Linked DNA regions of Homo sapiens. The protein of the gene in region 1 purifies or fractionates together with the protein of each later gene. This does not show direct contact. Each region holds a gene or a part of one and is shown on either strand. Other genes may lie near its edges.

The links. Proteins that work in one complex are often made in the same cells at the same time.
Region 2: the proteins of LSS (region 1) and HMGCS1 purify together in Homo sapiens (affinity purification with mass spectrometry; one large-scale study listed by BioGRID and IntAct). This does not show direct contact.
Region 3: the proteins of LSS (region 1) and RAB12 purify together in Homo sapiens (affinity purification with mass spectrometry; one large-scale study listed by BioGRID and IntAct). This does not show direct contact.

The regions. Positions count from the first base shown.
Region 1 is NC_000021.9:46,222,275-46,225,774, reverse strand, and holds part of LSS (lanosterol synthase), read left to right. Parts: intron 1-3,036; coding exon 3,037-3,145; intron 3,146-3,500. UniProt on the Homo sapiens protein: Key enzyme in the cholesterol biosynthesis pathway. Catalyzes the cyclization of (S)-2,3 oxidosqualene to lanosterol, a reaction that forms the sterol nucleus.
Region 2 is NC_000005.10:43,306,913-43,310,412, forward strand, and holds part of HMGCS1 (hydroxymethylglutaryl-CoA synthase, cytoplasmic), read right to left. Parts: intron 933-3,500; exon of another isoform or gene 913-932; 5' UTR 854-912; intron 1-853. UniProt on the Homo sapiens protein: Catalyzes the condensation of acetyl-CoA with acetoacetyl-CoA to form HMG-CoA, which is converted by HMG-CoA reductase (HMGCR) into mevalonate, a precursor for cholesterol synthesis.
Region 3 is NC_000018.10:8,633,437-8,636,659, forward strand, and holds part of RAB12 (ras-related protein Rab-12), read left to right. Parts: intron 1-2,096; coding exon 2,097-2,186; intron 2,187-2,225; exon of another isoform or gene 2,226-2,363; intron 2,364-2,752; exon of another isoform or gene 2,753-2,816; coding exon 2,817-2,921; intron 2,922-3,223. UniProt on the Homo sapiens protein: The small GTPases Rab are key regulators of intracellular membrane trafficking, from the formation of transport vesicles to their fusion with membranes.

The DNA of each region.
Region 1 (3,500 bases):
GTCCACTGGACAGTGGGCTCTTCCCTGCCTGGCAGCCGAGGCAGAGAGTGGGAGAGAGAGAGAGAGAGACAGCTTATGCCATTATTTCTGCATATCAGAGACTTTTAGTACTTTCACTAATTTTGCTACTGTTATCTAAAAGGCAGAGCCAGGTGTACAGGGTGGAACATGAAAGTGGACTAGGAGCGTGACCACTGAAGCACAGCATCACAGGGAGATGGTTAGGCCTCCGGATAACTGCGGGTGGGCCTGACTGATGTCAGGCCGTCCACAAGAGGTGGAGGAGTAGAGTCTTCTCTAAACTCCCCCGGGGAAAGGGAGATTCCCTTTCCCGGTATGCTAAGTAGCGGGTGTTTTTCCTTGACACTGACGCTACCGCTAGACCACGGTTGGGTCCGCTTGGCAACGGGCCTCTTCCCAGATGCTGGCGTTACCGCTAGACCAAGGAGCCCTCTAGTGGCCTTGTCCGGGCTTAACAGAAGGCTCTCACTCTTGTCTTCTGGTCACTTCTCACTATGTCTCTTCAGCTCCTATCTCTGTATGGCCTGGTTTTTCCTAGGTTATGATTGTAGAGCGAGGATTATTATAATATTGGAATAAAGAGTAATTGCTACAAACTAATGATTAATGATATTCATATATAATCATATGTATGATCTAGATCTAGTATAACTCTTGTTGTTTTATATATTTTATTATACTGGAACAGCTCGTGCCCTCGGTCTCTTGCCTTGGCACCAAGGTGGCTTGCCACCCACAGCCTCTCGAGTAGCTGGGATTACAGCCATGTGCCACCATGCCTGGCTAATTTTTGTATTTTTGGTAGAGACAGGTTTTCACCTTGTTGGTCAGGCTGGTCTCGAACTCCTGACCTCGTGATCCCCCACCCCCCACCCCCAGCCTCCCAAAGTGCTGGGATTACAGGCGTGAGCCACTGCACCTGGCTGAGTTGGAGCTTTTCTTCCCTCTTTTTGGACTTTGGAAAATGCTCTTGGTCCATGATGCTATGTAGACAGCTCCCATTGACTGTGGCCTGTGCGGCATTGGGCAGCACTCTGGTGAACACTGAATCGGGTCTGACCTCCTAGCCCCACCATTTACTGGCTGAGCCTCAGTTTCCTTGCCTGTAAAATCAGGAAGATGCTGGCTCTGCTCCTCTCTGCACATTTCCCCGTCCTAACAACATTATAACTGTTAGGAAAGAGACGGGCTTGTTTTGGGATGGCTCATTTTATGTGACCCTGTGCGCTGTCTCTGAGTTCATCTGCCCTTCTTCCAGGGTGTAGGGACCAGCCCCACAGGGTCGGTGGGTCTCTCCCTGTGTGCGGCGATGAGAGAGTGTAGAAATAAAGACGCAAGACAAAGAGATAAAAGACAGCTGGGCCCGGGGGACCACTGCCACCAATGCACGGAGACCAGTAGTGGCCCCGAATGTCTGGCTGTGCTGTTATTTATTGGATACAAAGCAAAAGGGGCAGGGTAAAGAGTGTGAGTCATCTCCAGTGATAGGTAAGGTCACGTGGGTCACGTGTCCACTGGACAGGGGGCCCTTCCCTGCCTGGCAGCCGAGGCAGAGAGAGGAGACACAGAGAAAGACAACTTATGCCATTATTTCTGCATATCAGAGACTTTTAGTACTTTCACTAATTGACTACTGCTATCTAGAAGGCAGAGCCAGGTGTACAGGATGGAACATGAAGGCGGACTAGGAGCGTGACCACTGAAGCACAGCATCACAGGGAGACAGGCCTCCGGATAACTGCGGGCAGGTCTGACTAATGTGAGGCCCTCCACAAGAGGTGGAGGAGCAGAGTCTTCTCTAAATTCCCCCGGGGAAAGGGAGCCTCCCTTTCCCGGTCTGCTAAGTAGCGGGTGTTGTTCCTTGACACTTTTCGCTACCGCTAGACCACCGTCCGCTCGGCAACGGGCGTCTTCCCAGACGCTGGCGTTACCACTAGACCAAGGAGCCCTTTTGCTGGCCCCGTCCGGGCATAACAGAAGGCTCGCACTCCTGTCTTCTGGTCACACCTCACTATGTCCCCTCAGCTCCTATCTCTGTATGGCCTGGTTTTTCCTAGGTTATGATTGTAGAGCGAGGATTATTATAATATTGGGATAAAGAGTAATTACTACAAACTAATGATTAATGATATTCATATATCTCTAAGATCTATATCTGGTATAACTATTCTTGTTTTATATTTTATTATACTGGAACAGCTCGTGTCCTCGGTCTCTTGCCTTGGCGCCTGGGTGGCTTGCCGCCCACACAGGGCATGTCTGGATGGTTTGAACACTAGGGCTTCTGATGCTCTAAGCCAGAGTCAGGTATTCATTCCATGGCACATGTGGCTGGGGTCTGCCCTGAGACCTGTCCCGTGCCAGGCTCTGGGGGCACATGGCTGATGGAACCAAGCATGGGGAGTGAAGGTGGAGGGTGGCCTGTGAGCACCATGCCTGAGAGGACCAGGCTGGGGACGGAAGGTTCTTAGTGGATAATATTTATTGTCTCTGCCTCCCCCCTGACATTTGCAAAGCGGCATATGCTTGTAAAAAAATTTTGAAACAGAAAAATATAAATAAATAAGTAGGTATTACCACATGCAAGGGTGACCAATTTTGTATTTTTCTTCCCAGCAGATGTTAAAGCAAGACCAACAGTCTCCCCTCATGGAAGGCCCACTGATCTAAAATGCTGGTTCCTTTTGGACCTTCAGGGCACTTGGGGGAGACCTTCCTGAGGTGCTGTGCAGTGTCTGGTGTTTCTCAGACCCTGGTGGTCATGGGAGCCAGGCGTGGCTGAGTGGGCTCTACAGGCCCTAGGCAGGGAGCATCGCCTGTGCTGTGGCTGACGTTCCTTCTGGCCCTGTTCCCAAAGTTCCCCATGGGGGCCTGGGAGGAATGGCCTTTCCAGGGGGTGTTTTTATGAGAAGGAGGTAGCTCCCTGTTGGAGTGAGGTGCTCAGGAGGAAAGGGGCCTGGTCTTAGCAGTCATGACCACCTGTCCCCAGTGAGGAACATCTCTCCTGCCACACAGGCCTCCTGATCACTTGCCACGTGGCACGCATCCCTCTGCCAGCCGGATACAGAGAAGAGATTGTGCGGTACCTGCGGTCAGTGCAGCTCCCTGACGGTGGCTGGGGCCTGTGAGTGTGCCTGCCCCTGTGTCACTGCACATGTGCATGTGTGTGTTCTCATGATGTAGGAGATGCTTGGGTTTCCAGGCAGCTGCCAGGGGTTAGGAGTGATTGCAGCTGTGGGTGTGGGGTGGGTGAGGGAGAGACTAGCAGGCGGGGAGTGGGCTGAAGGCCATGCAGGTGGGGCCTCGGCTTCACATCTTTTGTTAAATGGATTTTGTGGCTGTTAGGACACTCTTGAGACCCACATGTGAAAACTGTCAGTCTGTTATCACTTAAGGCAGAAGAAAATTGCCCTTGACTCTGGGCTGGCAGCAGGTGGAGACAAGGCCTGACAGCTTTCCTGCCATGTGGCACACACTTT
Region 2 (3,500 bases), on another chromosome or scaffold:
AAAGTCATTAACACCCATAGGAAATCATAATCTTGAAATACAAAAAAAGCAGAATTGTAAGAGAAGCACTCCCTGACAATATGAGAAAGCAATGGCTGCAAATAATTAGATTACCAGTTGAAACACATTTGAAATTACTGTCCATTCTCACATAATTTTTTTTTTTTTTTTTTTTTGAGACAGAGTCCCACTCTGTTGCCCAGGCTGGAGTGCAGTGGCGCAATCTCAGCTCACTGCAACCTCCGACTTCTGGGTTCAAGCGATTCTCTTGCCTCAGCCTCCTGAGCTGCTTGACTTACAGGCACCTGCCACCAAGCCTGGCTAATTTTTTTGTATTTTTAGTAGAGACTGGGTTTTACCATGTTGGCCAGGCTGGTCTCAAATTCCTGACCTCAGGTGATCCACCCGCCACAGCCTCCCAAAGTGGTGGGATTACAGACGTGAGCCACTGTGCCTGGCCCATTCTTACATAATTTTAAACATTCATCCACAGCCCAGATACATATCTTTTGAGGCCATAATTTAAAAAGCACTAATGGCAGTCATGTTTACCTCTGATTGTTTCTGATTAAGTAGTCCATGTAATTACATTTTATTATAAGTACTTTTTCTCTTATGAGTGAACACTAATTTTTAAAATTTGTTTCTAGATTTTAAACATTAGTCTAATAAACATAAAATTAGTTTCCTGAAGCATTAAAGCATTAACAGAATTTTAAAGATGAGGTAGAACCCTAAAAGGGGTTTTAAGAACATATGGCACAAACAAATCGTTATTTTCTCTAGGATACCAAGTTTCCTCCTTCCATTAGAGAGGAATACTTTCCTTAAGCAGCATGACAGGATGTCATACCTGTGTGAAGGATAGAGAACTGCAGTCTCCAGGTCTGTCACTGTTTCCTCCTTCGGGCACTAGGAATTTCAAACAAGAACTGCTTTTAAAGTTATAAATCACTACCCAAATTCAAATACTAATGAATCCAATTCAAAGTGAGTTAAAATAAGCAATTCCTTATCCAATTACATTATGCAGAATAGAATTTGACATTTGCTTAGAAAAAATCATACTTAAAGCTTATAGAACATTTTCCCCCTTATTTTCATAGCCCTTATAGTGAAAGGTTCAGTCCTGGTAATAAACGGATATAAGAAGCCTACTATTGCAGGAAGGAATAAACAAAAAAACCTCAAGGAAATAAGAAGCCCATGTCACCAATTGAGGCTTTAAACCAAGGTTTTCAAGAATTGGGGGAAAGGAATATAAACAAGTTGTAATGAGTTAGCAAATTTCTAGAGTAAAGAGATATATGCAGTCAAGAGCCTGCACTGCATGTAACAGATTGTGGCTTTGGCAGCAATTCTGGACCTCAGTTTCCTCATCTATAAAATGAAGCTAATACAGTTGCCCTCCCCAGATCATTGTGAAGGATTGCTGAGATGATAAAATATGTGAAGACACTTTGTAACACAAAGCACCAATACACTGACTATTACCTTAGTTCTTATAGTTCTTATAAGTGTTTTTCAAAGAAAATAAAGGTATTTTTTCTAGCAAGACCTAATCATTTTCAACACTGCCACCTTCACCCTCCCAACCTTTTATAAAGTGATTTTCCCTCTTACTGCTTATGTTAAAAAATTAAGCATTTAGACAAAGGAGCATTAAACATTATTATGTAAATTAAGTAGAAATAATTTGCGAAGGTGACTGGAACATATTCTTCAGTCCATCTGTTTTGAAAGACTGATTGTTACTTGAGATGGCAACTTCTATGTTTAACACAGCATACACCATTTCCTCTGCTCTCTATTTAATTACTGGCAAATTTAGCATCTGCCCTTAATGGATTCACTGGTAACTACATTCGGATGTTATTAATATTTAATAAAGCTTTACTTTTTTTACATAATTACATAATTTAAGAGCTCTTCAGTCGTAGCGCCTTTTACTTCATTAACTAAGTTTACTACCCACCTACGCCCCCCTGCCCCATAAAAAGAAATAGATCTTGAGTTTTGTAGGCAAAGAATACTACAATATTCCAAAAATGTCTCTAATTAACTGTAATTATACATACTTTGAGAAAATAACCTATCTTTGTTCTTTATTATCTCAAATTATGCCTTTGTCTTCTGCAAATTAAGCAGACCACAGAGACCAGTTCTTGAAAAACAAGATTCCTTCTCCATGTTAAGACTACTTAAATAATAATATTTCTTCTTGATGTTCATGTATGTATATGCATTTGACACTACTTGTATCAAGGAAATTTTCCTTGAACTGCCTATATTCTGCCTTTCCTTGCACTGCCTATATTCCCTCAAATTTTTTTTTTTTTTTGAGACAGGGTCTCCCTCTGTCACCCAGACTGGAATGCAGTAGCATTCCAGTCACTGCTCACTGTAACCTCGACCTCCCAGGCTCAAGTGATCCTCCTGTCTCAGACCCCGCAAGTAGCTGGGACTACAGGCACATGCCACAATACACAGCTGATTTTTGTATTTTTTGTAGAGATGGGGTTTTGCCATCTTTCCCAGGCTGTTCTCCAACTCCTGGGCTAAACCAATCCACCCACTTTGGCCTCCCAAAGTGCTGGGATTATAGGCGTGGGCCACCTTGCCTGGGCCCCTCTTTCTATTTTGATTACTTAAATTGGAGAGGGATGTTAGGTGGGAGAGACACAGAGAACAAAGAAGAAACAAATAGAAGATTCAGAAAGGATTGCTGTGCTACTTAAGGATTTCTCTATTCTGGCTAAACCAGTATTGCCAAAGTCTCAAGCAGATCACAAGCTTATTTCTAACAGGTCTTTTCAGAGTAAGTGACAGAGGGAATCAACATGGGTCAAGAAGCAGTTAATGAATGGCAAGTAGCCAGGCAGGTTACCACAAAGCAGGTTTGCAGACTCATGGGATGAAATATAGGCACTTTGAGTCTGGCAAAGACTAAAACACAAGAATGATAAGACTGCCTAGGGCCAACCAGATTTATGCAATGGTAGTTTCTTCTGGAGTTTACTCAGTGTTCTGAATACTTCCTTCTGGCTCCCTCCTTAGCCTTGATTCAAAGAAGTGGTTGGAGAAGTTCATTGCCTACACATTTTGGTATGTAAACTATAAAATATAAACAGTTACCTATTGATCTTTCTCATTGTTACAGGAGATAAATCTAGGAAATTAAGAACAAGTTGGCAACCTTTCCTCCTTAGGAGCAAGCAAGTAAAAACTAATGTTAAGAAAGACTTGCTCAAACCTGTACACTCTGGTATAGTTCTCCAAGTAAAAAGCATGGACATCCCTGCCTCCTCCCAGAGTTACTGGTCTGCGTATCAGAGATTCTACTCATCTTCAAGGCCCTGTTCTAAGTCACCTCTTCCTGGAAGCTTTCCTCGATAAATCACACAGAAAATAAGTTTTCTAATCAGGGACCTGCACTTCTACAGAGGTAGGTCATTCATACCCAAGTCTACATAGCCTACTCTCTATGGAAAACTAGTTAT
Region 3 (3,223 bases), on another chromosome or scaffold:
AACATCATTTAGCCCATATATAGCCTTCGGGATAGGGATGTAGTCCTGTATTGTGGATGAGGCAAAGAAGAATTAAATTTATCCAGAATCAGGATTTTTCGTCTGGTATCCTGGACTGTCTCAACTACAGAGGCCAAACATGCTCATTCCACTACATCCAGCTGCTTTCATGGAATAGATATAAGACATTTCATTTCTGCGGAAAGGTCACCTGGACACTCATCTCATGCACGTCCACTGAGTGACAACCTTGAGGAGATGGCCTTCTCCACGGTGCCTGCGGATGTCCCACGCGCCTCCGTCACCCACTGGACATCTGTCCTCGCAATTATAGATGCCCTTTAGCTCCTCATTTTGAGCAAGAGGAGCTCGAGTTCTCCTTTGGCTCGTGATGGAATCATACAGATAGGCTGTGTCCCTGTGGTTAATGTGAACCGTGGGTTCTCCGCTAAGAAACATGTTCCCAAATACACATTTAGAAGGCAGAGCAGTTGGGAGTGGGATGTGATGATATACCATTGACCACATTTTGAGTTTTCTTCCCCTCGTGCAGTAGTTTCATGTTTAGTTCCTTTGCATAACAAGCATATGCAATATAAATTGGATTTTATCTACACATTGCATTTAAACCTGTCTGCTAGATAACATTGGAGAATGTTTGCCAGCTTTACCAAGCATGTCATTGATGATGTATGCCTCTTTAAAATGTGTTAGGATTGGTGGCCAGGCATGGTGACTCACACCTGTAATCCCAGCACTTTGGAAGGCCAAAGCAAGAGGATCACTTGAACCCAGGAGGTCGAGACCAGCCTGGGCAACATAGTGGGACTCCATCTCTCTCTCTCTCTTTTTTTTTTTTTTTTTTTTCATTAAAAAAAAAAGTTGTTAGGATCAGGGTTGCAAGGTTGGATCAGACCTGAGGCGGGGCCCCTGCCCCAGCCTGCTCTGCACTGGGCATCAGTCATACCAGGCCCTCCATTGGCACATCAGTGGATACTGATGTTCCCTGATACGGAAGTCACAGAGTGCAATCCTGTGGAAATTAGAAGTGGACAGTCCTCATAGTCTAAAACTTTTAGAACTAATAGGATGAATACAAAACCAAAAGAAATGGCCTAAATCCTACCCCATTTGGTACTTGAGTTTGTGAGTCTGTGCCCACCCAGGTCTTGAGGTCTGATGCTGTCTTCCTTTTGTCATCAACTGCTGCTTTTCACCTTACTTGAGTGAGAGCATCATTTCCTGAGTGCGGGGCCCATTGCCCCAGCCCTGCGGTGGGTGCTGTCACTGTTACCCACACCTCCCTGATAAGGGGCCGGCACTCCTCACCTGGCTGCGTAACTGGCCCACGGCCACACCATTCAGGTTCCTTTTGTTGCAGTCTGTTTCAAGTAACTTTTTAGAACGACAAGTTAGTTGCTCAAGAGATTTTAACCTCATTTTTAAAGACAGAAATCTCATTGTACCTATATGTATTTTTAAACTTAGAAATGTAGCTTAACTTTTTTCCTGGTTATAAAATTAATGATACCTTCATTATAGAAATTTGGAAAATGAAGAAAAGCACAAAAGTAAAGAAGAAATCTGTACCTCTGGCATCCTGAAAAACCAAATTGGCTTCACTGTATTTAGCTTTACGTCTTGCTTATTTTGTGAATATTCTGTCATGGAGTCCTTCCTGTGTCATTCTCTGTTCTTCTGAAGCGTGTGTTTTTTTAAATGCCTGTGTTTTTAAAATAACTTGATTCTTGAGCCATTTTGTTTGACTTGTAGGTTTTTCAGTTGATAACCATTTTGAGTGTAGAGCTTTGCCTGTATGTTGAATCATTTCCTTAGGAAGAGGTCTTGGGAATTGTTGGGTCAACAGCCAAGAGCATTGTGGTTCTTAATGCCTGTGCCCTAGTTCTTTCTAAGACACAGTGAGCCCTGCCTTGCACTGCTGCCCAGTCCTGCCTGGGAACTGGTAGAACCTCAAAGACAGTGGAAGTGAATGGACAAATGTAAATTAGCGAAAAATACTGTATCGGTTTATATTTCTGCTGTCAGTATATGGCGATGCCCATCTTTGAAATGTGGCTTCTTTTAAAATTCCACAGTATGCTTCAGAAGATGCAGAGCTTCTCTTAGTTGGAAATAAGTTGGACTGTGAAACGGACAGAGAAATCACCAGGCAGCAGGGGGAAAAGGTGAGAGGGCGTGGGAGGCACGGTTGCCACACACTGTGCTTAGCGCTTGAGGTACTGTTTCTTTTAATAAATTACTTATTTTAAAAATTACAAAGAAATTATCAATACAGTGATAACTCAGTCACATCCTCCTAATTTGTTTGCACTTTTTTGACTTCGTGCTCCTTTAAATTCATTCTGAAATGGAGGGAGAAAAAAACACATCAGTGTATACAACATTATTATCTAACCTGACATTTTATACAGAGAAACATATTTTAAGCCATAAAGTTGCTTTTATAATTTACTTTAACGTACTTTAAACTTCCTTGGTTTTTGCTAAGGATTGAATCATGGAGAAACGATGCTATTCACATTTAAATGTCAGATATGTTACACTTTTAGAAACTTAGGCAACTGATTTGACTGGAAGGTCCCGGCATCACCTTCAGGATTTTTATTGTCTTTTGTTTTGCTAGTTGCTTATAATGTAAGAATTTGCTACACTTGTGAACTTTATCTTTGAGCGTCAGTGGGACTTTCTACCCCTTAATCCCAGCCCTTCCCTTGAAGCTGAGCCCAGAGACCTCATGCTCGCACGCTGGTCTGTGAGGCCCCACACAGAGGAAATAGGTGTGTGTTTCTTCTCAGTTTGCACAGCAGATCACTGGGATGCGGTTCTGTGAAGCAAGTGCCAAGGATAACTTCAATGTGGACGAGATATTTTTGAAACTTGTCGATGACATTCTGAAAAAGGTAAAAAAAAGAATCTACATTATAAAAGTATATCATCTGAAACCTGTTGTTTCCTTTATTGCTTTTTTATTGAGAATTTTGTATTTAGAAACCAAAATACAGTAGTTGTGCTCAGGCGCAAGAACCAGGTATGGTTGTTAACTCAGCCACAGGCACCCGGCCTGCTGTAGCCGTTTCCCACCCAGGGGCTTCTGGTGTCCTTGGGGTTGGTATATGGCATACTTGCTTCGCCTTAAGATACAGCAGGGTAGACTTAACAGGGTGTAGCAATATGCTGTGTTTATTTGACATTTGCTTGTTTT